Linked DNA regions of Homo sapiens: region 2 is linked to region 1. The links come from fine-mapping of genetic effects on gene expression. A gene starts in region 1. The other region holds a variant in brackets. All regions are shown on one strand. Distances are between the middles of the regions. Region 1 holds the start of MYO9B (myosin IXB). Region 2 overlaps MYO9B (myosin IXB).

Region 1 (5,316 bases):
TTAACACGTGGTATCTTTCCAGGTTTGACCTGGGGCCAGCCACTACTTCCGAGGAAACTTGCTGGAATCCCCCTTGTCCTAAAGCTTGCATTGGTTGTCCCTAATTCTCCCCCCATAATATCTTGTGGCCCCTCTGTCACCGTACTGATGACCTGATCTGAATTCCATTCTTTTTTTTAATTATTATTATTTTTGAGGGCATCTTGCTCTGTCACCCAGACTGGAGTGCAATGGCGCAATCTTGGCTGGCTGCAAACTCCGCCTCCTGGGTTCAAGCAATTCTCCTGTCTCAGCCTCCAGAGTAGCTGGGACTACAGGCGCACATCACCACGCCGGGCTAATTTTTGTATTTTTAGTGGAGACAGGGTTTCTCCATATTGGTCAGGCTGGTCTTGAACTCCTGACCTTGTGATCCACCCACCTTGGCCTCCCAAAGGGATTACAGGCCTGAGCCACCGCGGCCCAGCTTGAACTCCATTCTTTCTGAAGAGGAAGTGCAAAGTTGTCGGGGGCGGGCATTAGCGTGTCCGTCCTCTGGGTCATAAGGATTCACCTCTGTCCCCAGGAATCTACCAAGTGTCTGGCACAATCAACCCTTGCCTAACTGAAATCTAGGCCCACCCAAGACACACCATTTGGAAGAGATGAGGAATGGGAAGCAGCAAGTTAACAAGTCCATGTGGGGAGAGAATAACGAATCCTACAGCCAAACAGAAAGGGGAGATTCCCACGTCTCTACCTGCTCCACTGAGTCACCAGACTGGACCCGAGGGACGGTACTGCCTCGGGATTTCCAGAAATTTGCAGTTTCCAAAGCTTTGGGAATAGGTGCAATGTGCAAAAGCACCTTCAACACCGCAATTTTCTATTTGGACGATGAAGAAGCGGTTGAAAAAAAATCATTTTTGGATACAAACTGTCGAATGGAAAACGGAATAAAAGTAGGATCATCGCAGCCAGGAATGGAGAGTGGGGGTGCTGTGAGGAGTTCAAGGCCGGGAGCTGGGGGACATGGACTGGAGACAAGACGGTGATGAGAAGAGTTGGGTTTCAAGGTTGAAAAACGCTGATGGAGGTCAATTCATTCATTTTGCAGGTGAGAGGTCAGAAACAGGCACAGAGACTTGACCAAAGCCAGGATCTCCAACACAGTGCTCCCCCCACAAGACCCTGCTTGGCCATTCTCTAGCGGCAGGGAAGAGGCGATTGCAGGGCTGCGGGATCAGAAGATCCCGGTCCTGTTCTGTAGGCCAGTGCAAGCCTACAGTTCAATGTTTGCAGGAGGCATGACTGTGGGCTGTCACTGCATGTCCTGGGGCAAGCCAGGCCAAAGCCACCTTTCCTAAAGGCCAGGATATTCTGGAAGTGAAGGGGGTGCTTATCTTTCTGTGGCCCTCTTTATATTCCAGCTATCCGGGTTCATCTCCTGAATGAGCTATAAACTAAACATAAGCTGGGGTTCCCCAGCCCTTCTGGCAGATCCCAGATAAAGATCCCTACAGTTGGGAAAGGGGAGAAATGAATGCCAATCAAAAGCACCCTGCACAAAGTCCCTGCCAGGGCCACAAGAGCCAGGCCTGTCAGATGTGAATAACTTTCCTGTAGCCCAGGTCACCTCCGGCTGCTCCTGGACACCTTAAGATTCTGAAGACTCCAACATCAAAAAACAAACCGAGTTGGGACTCTCTGGCTGGAAAGTGTCCCCACGGGCTCCCACCTCAGACAAAGAGGCAGAGAAGCCATCCCTTAAAGACCCCTGGCCTCCAGGGTGCCCAGGAAAGAAAGGAGGGCTCGTGGCTGTCGTGCCTCTCCAGGGCTGAGCTCAGAGCAACCGGGGGACAGATTTCCTGTATGTCGTTTTACCCATTTAAGTCCAAGGATGCAGCTCTGCGGAGGTGGCGACAGTCCTGTACATGAGGGTGCATGCACACTCCCTCCTGAAACACAGTTCCGGCCCCACAACCGGCCCTGAGGTCCCTTCCTTGGATCCAGGGAATCCCAGAATCCTGCTAGTCCTGTCTTAAGGGGAGGGTGGTGAAGTTTCCAAGACGAGGACACTGGCACAGAGGGTGTTGGGACTCGTCCCAGGTCACCCAGCTGTTAAGTGTGAAGTCAGGAGGGACACGAATCAAGAGGGGAGGGTGGGGGGACGGAATCTCCAGGGGCTGCATCTCAACATCTATCTGCACGGGGCCACTCTAACCCCTTCCTTCTCTTCCCTCCTCTCCGGGCCCTCCCTCCCTAAGCCTACCCTCAGTTCTTACCGTGACTTCTACTCCGTTTACTTCCCTTCCAGCTCCCATTTCCCCGCTTCCCAATAGCCGGCTGCCGCATCAGTTAGTTCAGAACCCCCCGCATTTACTGAGCGCCCACTGGGGGCCAGGCGCCGCCCTCTTCTCAGACACCCTTCCTTCAATCGCGCGGGCAGACGTCCCCAGATCGGTCTCGCACCCCTTCCCCTCAACCGCACCCCGGCTGTCCCGCCCCTGGCCTTGCCCACTCCCCCAGCCTGGGCCTCTCGTTCCCGCCTCCGTGCCTCCCCACAACGCCGTTTCCTGCGACCCCCCAATTACCACTTAAGCCACGTCCTCTTCAGAGAAGCTGCTCAAAGCCACAAGACTCACCCCCCCCACGCCCTCGAACTCCCTCACCAGCTCCATCCCCATCCACTTTCTCCTTCACCGTCTCGCTTCCACCTCATCCCCAGCAATCTCTCCAAGACCCCCAGGCTCGTTCCCGCCCCCTCGACCCCTGCCGTCGCGTCCCCCATCAGCCCTCAGCTCCGTCCCTCTTCTGCGCAGCCCCCAAAGGCAGGCTTCGAGCTCGAGTCGCCAACCCGAGGCTGCCTGGTACTCACCTGGCCTCGGCCGCCGCGCGCCGCCGGTCCCGGGCCGGGTCCCCGGCCGGACGACCGCCTGCCAGCCCGCCGCTGCTCGAGCCGCTCCGCCCCGCCGCGCCCGCCGCTCCCCCGCGCGCTCCCGCTTCCGGGTTCCGGAGAGGCGGGGACGGGGGCGTGACGCCAGCGCTCCTAGGGGCGGGGCATCGCGAAAAGCCCCGCCCCTACTGTCCGACAGATCAGGTCCCACCCACCGCCCCTACCCACTACCGCCGATGGTGGGCGAGACCAAGTGCGAGGGGAGGACAGGCGAAGCGCGCGTCTGGGGCCGCGCTCTCCACACTTAGCCGGCGCTGCCTCACGCCTCGCAGCCACCCCTCCTGCGTCTCCACAAATGGTCCGACCCGCAAGCAAGGGGGCGGGTCCGGCTTTGAAAAGCCGGCGGGTCGGGCCTTGAGGTGGAAGGCGGGAAAATGGCGGATTCCTCGGGGCGAGGCGCTGGGTGAGTTGGGGCTTCCGCAGGTCTGGATTTGTAGACGCCATAGGGCTGGAGAGGATGGGCAGCGGAGGTGGGGAGTTAGGACCCTCGGGGTGAGTTCGGGTTCGACCCCGCCAGGAACTGCGCGGGCCCCTGAAGACCCCGATGGCGTGCTGCCTCTGCGCATGCTCCGGAGCGCTGACACCCGACCGGCCCTGAGTTCCGCGTCCTCGGCTGGGACGCTGGGCGACCTCCGGCAAGCGGCCTGACCGCCCAGTGCCTCGCTTTCCTCCGCTACGAAATGGGGCCGATGACGCAGCTCAACCTCGTAGGCGTCGCGTGAGGCTGAAACGCGCTTAGATCGGCGCCTGGGTCTTTACTGTGATGTCGCTCTTGGAATTATCGTTATGCAGTGAACAAGTGTTGGGCGACCAAAGTGTCCCCTTTAATCCTCCCACGCGCTTTATTCTGTGCTCCCAGTTTACTGAGGAGATGATGGAGACCCAGGGAGGGGAAGTGACTTGCCTAGGGTAACACACCATGAACAAGAAAGAAGTTGAATACTGACCGAGAGCTAGGCATGAATGATCATGAGGCTATATTTGTCTAGTTTTGTTAATTCTGCCAGTGTTGATTGTGCCAGGTGCAAACTGAAGTGAAATTGGCCAGCAAGAGGAATCACTCCACCGCCCCTTGCCGTAACCGATAGATTGACAGTAGCACCTCCCAGGTACAGGTGCAGTAGCTGAGGCTCGCACAGGTTGTAGGGACCCCCCTCAGGTCGCAGCAGGTTCACCCAGGAGCCCATTCGGTTTGAGGCCACAGCCCTAGCACAGTCCCCAGAGGGAGTCTGTGCTCTTGTCTCTTTCTGGCTGTGAGACTGCCCCGGGGGTGACCTATGTAAAACCTGTGCGTCTTTGTTTTGCAGCGACGAAAAAGCAGGTGTGAACAGTTAGGAAGCTGTCGGGTTAGGAGGAGCCTACGGGCGAGCGCAGCTGCTGGCACCTGGCGAACATTTGCTAAGTTGCCTCTCCCCACGGTGGCCTGGAAGTGTCCCCAACATTGTCTGGGTCTCACTTTGGGGTCCTGGGAGCCTGCTTCAGAGGAGGTGGCCGCAGGGACCAGTGGAGCCGCCTTTGGTGATGGGAGCAGGAGTTACAGTGCCCTGGCCTTGGCCCTGCCCCTCCACTTGCCCATCCACTTGCCCCTCCTGTGTTGCTGGTGTCTGTTCTTGGATCCCTTCTTTTCTCACCAGCTCAGGCTGAAACCCTGAAACCCCTAGTCATCCCAGATTCTCCCTCTCCTGCACCCCCACAGCTGATGAGTCAGCGATTCCTATCTCAGGGTCCCTTCTTTCCTATTACATCAGGCTTCATTCTATTTTTATTTTTATTTTTATTTTTATTTATTTATTTATTGAGACGGAGTCTCACTGTCACCCTGGCTGGAGTGCAATGGCGTGATCTTGGCTCACTGCAACCTGTGCCTCCCGGGTTCAAGCAGTTCTCCTGTGTCAGTCTCCTGAGTAGGAGGGACTACAGGCGCATGCCACCACCCCAGCTCATTTTTGTATTTTTAGTAGAGATGGGGTTTCACCATGTTAGCCAGGATGGTCTCGATCTCCTGACCTCGTGATCCGCCAGCCTCAGCCTCCCAAAGTGAGGTACCTGCTGGGACCACTCCTCGTACCTGCCTGTCAAGATGTTGTTCTTCCCTTTCTGGGAAGGAGCTCTGTGTTTTGTTACCACTGTGTCTCTACTGGAATATAGTAGGTGCATCAATGTCTGGTGAATGAATGAACCCAGGGATAATTTGAGATCTGCTGTGATCTCTTCCACAGAGCTCTCATTACCCTCCTCTCTTCTCAGTTTGGGTGTTCACCTATGCCTTCTTGCCCAGGTGACCAGGGCTGGCTGCTCCTTGTGTCCCTTTTCCTGTTGAGGTGGCCCACCCTCACTGAAATTGTCCTCTGGCAGCCCTTGGACTGGGCTGTCTGAGCTTC
Region 2 (5,365 bases), 32 kb before region 1:
ACGTGGCCCAGGCAGGTGTCCTTGAGGGCAGAGGTCGAAGTGGATAATGGCACTGTGGTCTAGGTGACCTACCCCAGTGCTGACTGTGGGTGGGGGAACAGAGCTAGTGGCCTGGCTGATGGCAGAGGGGCTGGGGGAGTTGGGGGAAACATGAGACTGGGTTTGTAGGGCCCCTAAGGAGGAGCTCAGGACCCGGTCCAGGTGGGTACGAGTCCTAGGTTCCTTTGCCCCAAGAGGGGGGTCTGGGGCAGTGGCACGTTCAGGACCCTTCCTCAGTCCCTCACTGGAATGTCCTGGGCATCGGCACAACTTCGGGTGAGCTTGGCTCCACCAGCTGGGGGCGTCCCTCTGCGCCCTGCAGCCCATCACTGTCACCGTGTCCCACTGTGGGCCGGGCCACAGGGGCTCCATGGAGTCCAGGGACCCTTGGGACAACAGCCTGACAAGCAAGGATCCTTATTTTATTTCTGCTTTCAGAATGAAAACCCCATGCACGCTGCCAGCTGCCAGCTGCACTTGCTACAGTTCAGGACAGATGAAGGGAACCCCAGCCTTTGGCCCCCTGGACTCAGCCTGCTCTCAGAAGGGCACCGAGGCGAGTGCCTGGTGGATCTGAGGCTGTGGGCAAAGGGAGAGGAGCGTGTTCTGGGTGTGCTTTGCGGCGAGACCCCATGGCCGATGCTGTAAGGTGCTCTATCCACAGCCCCTGGGCTGTCGACGGGCGCCTGCACTGGGAGGCTAGAGGCCATGTGGAAGATGGGGAGACTCATGGCTTCTGCAGCCCCTAGACTTGGTGAAAGGTGATGGCAACAGTTAACTGCAGTGGCGGGCAGATCAGCTGATTGGAACCGGCTTTCCACAGTGCTCCCTTCCTGTTTTTTGGTCAGCATTACACAGCGAGGCTGCAACCCTCGCGGGGGGCGGGGGTCAGGGGGTGCATCCAGCGACACTCAAACCTCAAAACAGCTCAACTTCTCCTTTCGGGGAGCTGAGAAAAAATCCCCAATCGATGCAGCGAGTTGTGCTGATCTCCGGCTTTCTGCAGCCCGGGCGAGAGAGGGGAGAGCAGAGAGGCAGCCTGAACGGGGGGCTGGGGCTCAGGCCGGGTTCAAACCCCGGGTTAGGCTTTGGCTCTCTGCGGTGTGGCCTGGGGAATCTACCTGCAGTGGGTTGACTTGTGGCTTCCCAAAAAAGACATGTCTAAGTCCTTACCCCCAGAACCTGTGACTGTGGCTTTATCTGGAAACGGGGTCTTGGCAGATGTCATGAAGGTAAGTATTTTGAGATGAGGTGATCCCATGAGAGAAAGGCAAGGGAGATTGGACACACACAGGGGAGAAGACCAGGTGACGACGGAGGGAGAGGGCAGAGTGATGCGGCCACAAGCCCAGAGCTCCAAGGATGGCTGAAGCCACCAGAACCCGGGAGAGAGGCCTGGGACAGATTCTCCCTCAGAGCCTCCAGAGGGACCCAGCCCTGCCCACACCTTGATTTTCAACTTCTGGCCTCCAGAACTGTGAGAGAATCAACCCCTGCTGTTTGAGGGCTCCCAGCCCGTAATACTTTGTTATAGACACCTCAGGAAACTCACACATCCACGTGTCTCTCTGGGGCTCAGTTTCCTCATCTTTAAAATGGGCAGAGCTGCCGTGAGGGATTAGAGATGATGGAGGAAAATCACGAAGCCCAAACCCTGATACCCAGTGGGCCTGAGGTCTTATTCCTCTTATTAGAAAATGATGGCCGGGCGCAGTGGCTCATGCTTGTAATCCCAGCACTTTGGGAGGCTGAGGTGGGCGGACCACGAGGTCAGGAGATCGAGACCATTCTGGCTAACACGGTGAAACCCCATCTCTACTAAAAATACAAAAAATTAGCTGGGTGTGGTGGTGAGCACCTGTAGTCCCAGCTACTCAGGAGGCTGAGGCAGGAGAATGGCACGAACCCGGGAGGCAGAACTTGCAGTGAGCCGAGATCGCGCCACTGCACTCCAGCCCGGAGACAGAGAGAAACTCTGTTTCAAAATAAATAAATAAATAAATAAATAAATAAATAAATAAATAAATAAATAAAATTAAAAAAAAGATTCTTGGGGCCAGGCATGGTGGCTCACGCCTATAATCCCAGCACTTTGGGAGGCTGAGGAGGGCAGATTACTTGAGGTCAGGAGTTTGAGACCAGCCTGGCCACTATGGTGAAACCCGTCTCTACTAAAAATACAAACATTAGCCGGGCACGGTGGTGGGCGCCTGTAGTCCCAGCTACTCGGGAGGGCTGAGGCAGGAGAATCAAACCCAGGAGGCAGAGGTTCCAGTGAGCCGAGATCGTGCCACTGCACTCCAGCCTGGGCGATAGAGCAAGACTCTATCTCAAAAAAAGAAAAAAAGAAAATGACTCTTAAGTTAGCACAGAACAGAAAGAACTCACAGATAATTTCTAAAAGCTCAGTGGCTGCAATGAACAGTGATTGGGTCTTATGGGAAGAACTCAAAGACAGCTGTTCTATTCCCAGGGGGTGATTTGTCCCCAGGGGACAACGGGAAGCTATTTTGTTAATACCTCTCTAATCAATGAAATGTCTGGGGACACTTCTGGGTGTCACACCTGCGGGGTGGGGAGTGCTCCTGGCATCTGGTGGGTGGAGGCCAGGGATGCTGCTCAATGTCCTTCAATGCACAGGATGACTCCCTCCCCAGAGAACGATCCGGCCCTGAATGTCAGCAGAGCCAGGTTGAGAAATCCAGCTCTCAGTGAAGACAATCACATCCCTTTGCAAACAGTCGCCCCAGGAAGCACGTTTATTGCCATGA[C/T]GTGGATTTGGCTCAAGCCTGTTTTGGAAGCCGGCGTGGGCACCACCCTCGAGCGGCTTAGAACCGCTGGAGAAAACTGGCCTCGCCAGCCCCCGCTGCTGAGGCCCCAAGCAGGTTGGCCTGGCAGGACCGGGGGTCTGACTCACAGAGGGTGACTAATGGCTGTTGAAGGCATACTGGAGACTGTGCAGGCGTGGAGGCTGGAGGGAGCTTTGCTGGCATCCGGGGAGGAACTACCGGTCCCCAGGACAATCGCGGATCTGGGGCAGCCCTCAAGGACCCAGGCACAAGATGTCACCAAGTGGGACTTGCCAGGGGCCAGGTAGGACTTGAAGCAGACCAGGTGGGGCTGTATGGGGGATGCTGTGGGCTGACTTGAGCCCCCCGCCCCCAAAATTATATCCACATCCTCACCCCCAGAAACTGTGTATGTGACCTTATTTGGAAATAGGGTCTTTGCAAATGCAATTAGGTAGGATGAGGTCATGCCGGGGTAGGATGGGCCCTACATCCCATGAGTGGTGTCCTTGTTATAAGAAAGCCACGTGAAGACATGGACACACAGGAAGAACGCCCCTGACGACAGAGGCAGAGACTGATGTGACGTGGCCACAGGCCAGGGCACATCTGCAGCCACCAGAGAAGCTGAAGAGGCCTGAAGCATCCTCCCCCAGAGCCGGGAGGGAGTGCGGCCCCGTGGACACCTTGATTTCAGACTTCTGGCCTCCAGGACCATGAGAGCCTTAATCCCTGTTGTTGGAGACTCCCTTGCCCCTAACACTTAGCAACAGGAAACTTGTCCACGCCCTGGAGGGTCCTAGTGAGATGGCGCTGTGGAGGCAGCAACGTGGTGGGGAGGACATGGACCCTGAACTGAGACCTAGGTGGCAATCCTGCCTCCTGGCCGTGCCACTTTGAGACCCTGGGGCTGGGCGTGTCATTTCTGCGGGGCTCAGGCATTTACCCACCTGCCTAGTCCCATTTGGCAAAATGTCTGACATGGTAAATGTTGGATCTACCCTCTCATTCATTCACCTACTAAATTTTTTTTGTTATTTTTTTGAGACAGGGTCTTGCTCTGTCACCCAGGCTGGAGTGCAGTGTGTGATCACAGCTCACTGCAGTCTTGAACTTCTGGGCTCAAGCAATCCTCCCACTTCAAGCTCCTGAGAGCTGAGACCACAGGCATGCACTGCCATGCCTGGCTAATTTTTTATTTTTATTTTTAATTTTGAGACAGATTTCGCTCTTGTTGCCCAGGCTGGAGTGCAATGGTGCGATATTGGCTCACTGCAACCTCCACCTCCCAAGTTCAAGCCATTCTCCTGCCTCAGCCTCCGAAGTACCTGGGATTATAGGCGCTCGCCACCACACCTGGCTAATTTTTGTATTTTTAGTAGAGACGGGGTTTCACCATGTTTGCCAGGCTGGTCTCGAACTCTTGACCTCAGGTGATCCACCTGCCTTGGCCTCCCAAAGTGTTGGGATTACAGGCATGAGCCACTGCACCCAGCCTAGTTTTTAAACTTTTTGGTAGAGATGGGGTCTTGCAATGTTACCCAGGCTGGTCTGGAATTCCTAGGCTCACGCAATCCTCCTGACTCAGGACTCAGCCTCCTGACTCTGGGATTACAGGTGTGTGCCACACATGCTGAATTTTCAAGATCACTGTTTTATCTCGGGTGTGGATGCCAGGCACTGATGTTTTGGCCTGGAGAGCCGTTGAGCCCCCTGGCCACCTGCTGGGAGGACACTGGGGCCACTGGCAGTTTCACTGTGGCTGAGTCTCAGAGCTGGGATGACGCCAGGGCGGCCTCGGGAGACCAGAGCTGGGTTGCATCTACCTCTGCTCAGAACCTCTATAGCTCCTGTGTCACCCAGAGTCTTCCCCGAGTTCTACCTGGGGAGAATTTTGTGTTGACTTTGGCCACCACATAGCCCAGCACCTATATCATAGCCTGCCACACAGCAAATGCTCACACAGCAATGAACGGGCGGTCTGGGTATATAATGTAATGCACACAAGACAAGCCATATTAAAAACAGCTGAGGTGGGAGGATCACTGGAAGCCAGGAGTTCGAGACCAGCCTGGAGAACATAGTAAGACTGTGTCTCTACAGAAAATTTAAAAATTAGCCGGGCATGGTGGTGCACACCTGGAATTCCAGCTACTTGGGTGGGAGGATCGCTTGAGCCCAGAAGTTCTCGAGGCTGCGGTGAGTTATGATTGTGCCACTGCACTCCATTCTAGGTAACGGAGAGAGACCCTGACAAGAAAGGAATAGAGGAGAGGCGAGGAGAGGGGAGGGGAGAGGAGGGGAGGGGAGGGGATGGGAAAGGAAAGAAAATGGACATTCTATGGTGAAATTGCTCAGCAGTTTTATTAAAAGCTGATGTAAACAATGACAATGAATCTCTGTGTTACTTGCACAGGAGAAAACAGGAATAGGCTACATATGTCGGACCAGGGCTAAGTTGTATGACCCCAATTAATGTCTTACTGATGACCTCAGAGAGGAAGAGGAACTGAAATGTATTCCTAGGCACTGCTTAG

What was found. PIP is the estimated chance that this variant, and not a neighbour inherited with it, causes the effect.
Region 2: its variant is fine-mapped to the expression of MYO9B in breast (GTEx, PIP 0.95). The same link has a PIP of 0.9 or more in fibroblasts.

What each region holds. Positions count from the first base shown.
Region 1 is chr19:17,073,416-17,078,731 of GRCh38, reverse strand. It overlaps MYO9B (myosin IXB), which reads right to left and starts at 2,955. Exons shown (of 40, transcript NM_004145.4): 1 at 2,858-2,955. It overlaps HAUS8 (HAUS augmin like complex subunit 8), which reads left to right and starts at 3,280. Exons shown (of 11, transcript NM_033417.2): 1 at 3,280-3,338. The coding sequence starts at 3,310. RefSeq lists silencers at 2,519-2,813, 2,808-3,157 and an enhancer at 3,338-3,537.
Region 2 is chr19:17,105,741-17,111,105 of GRCh38, reverse strand. All of the region lies in intron 2 of MYO9B (myosin IXB), which reads right to left. Among named protein-coding and RNA genes, the nearest start is that of SNORA118, 16 kb to the right of the region's middle. RefSeq lists enhancers at 200-701, 665-774, 2,807-2,856. The variant C/T (reference allele first, on the strand shown) is at 2,811.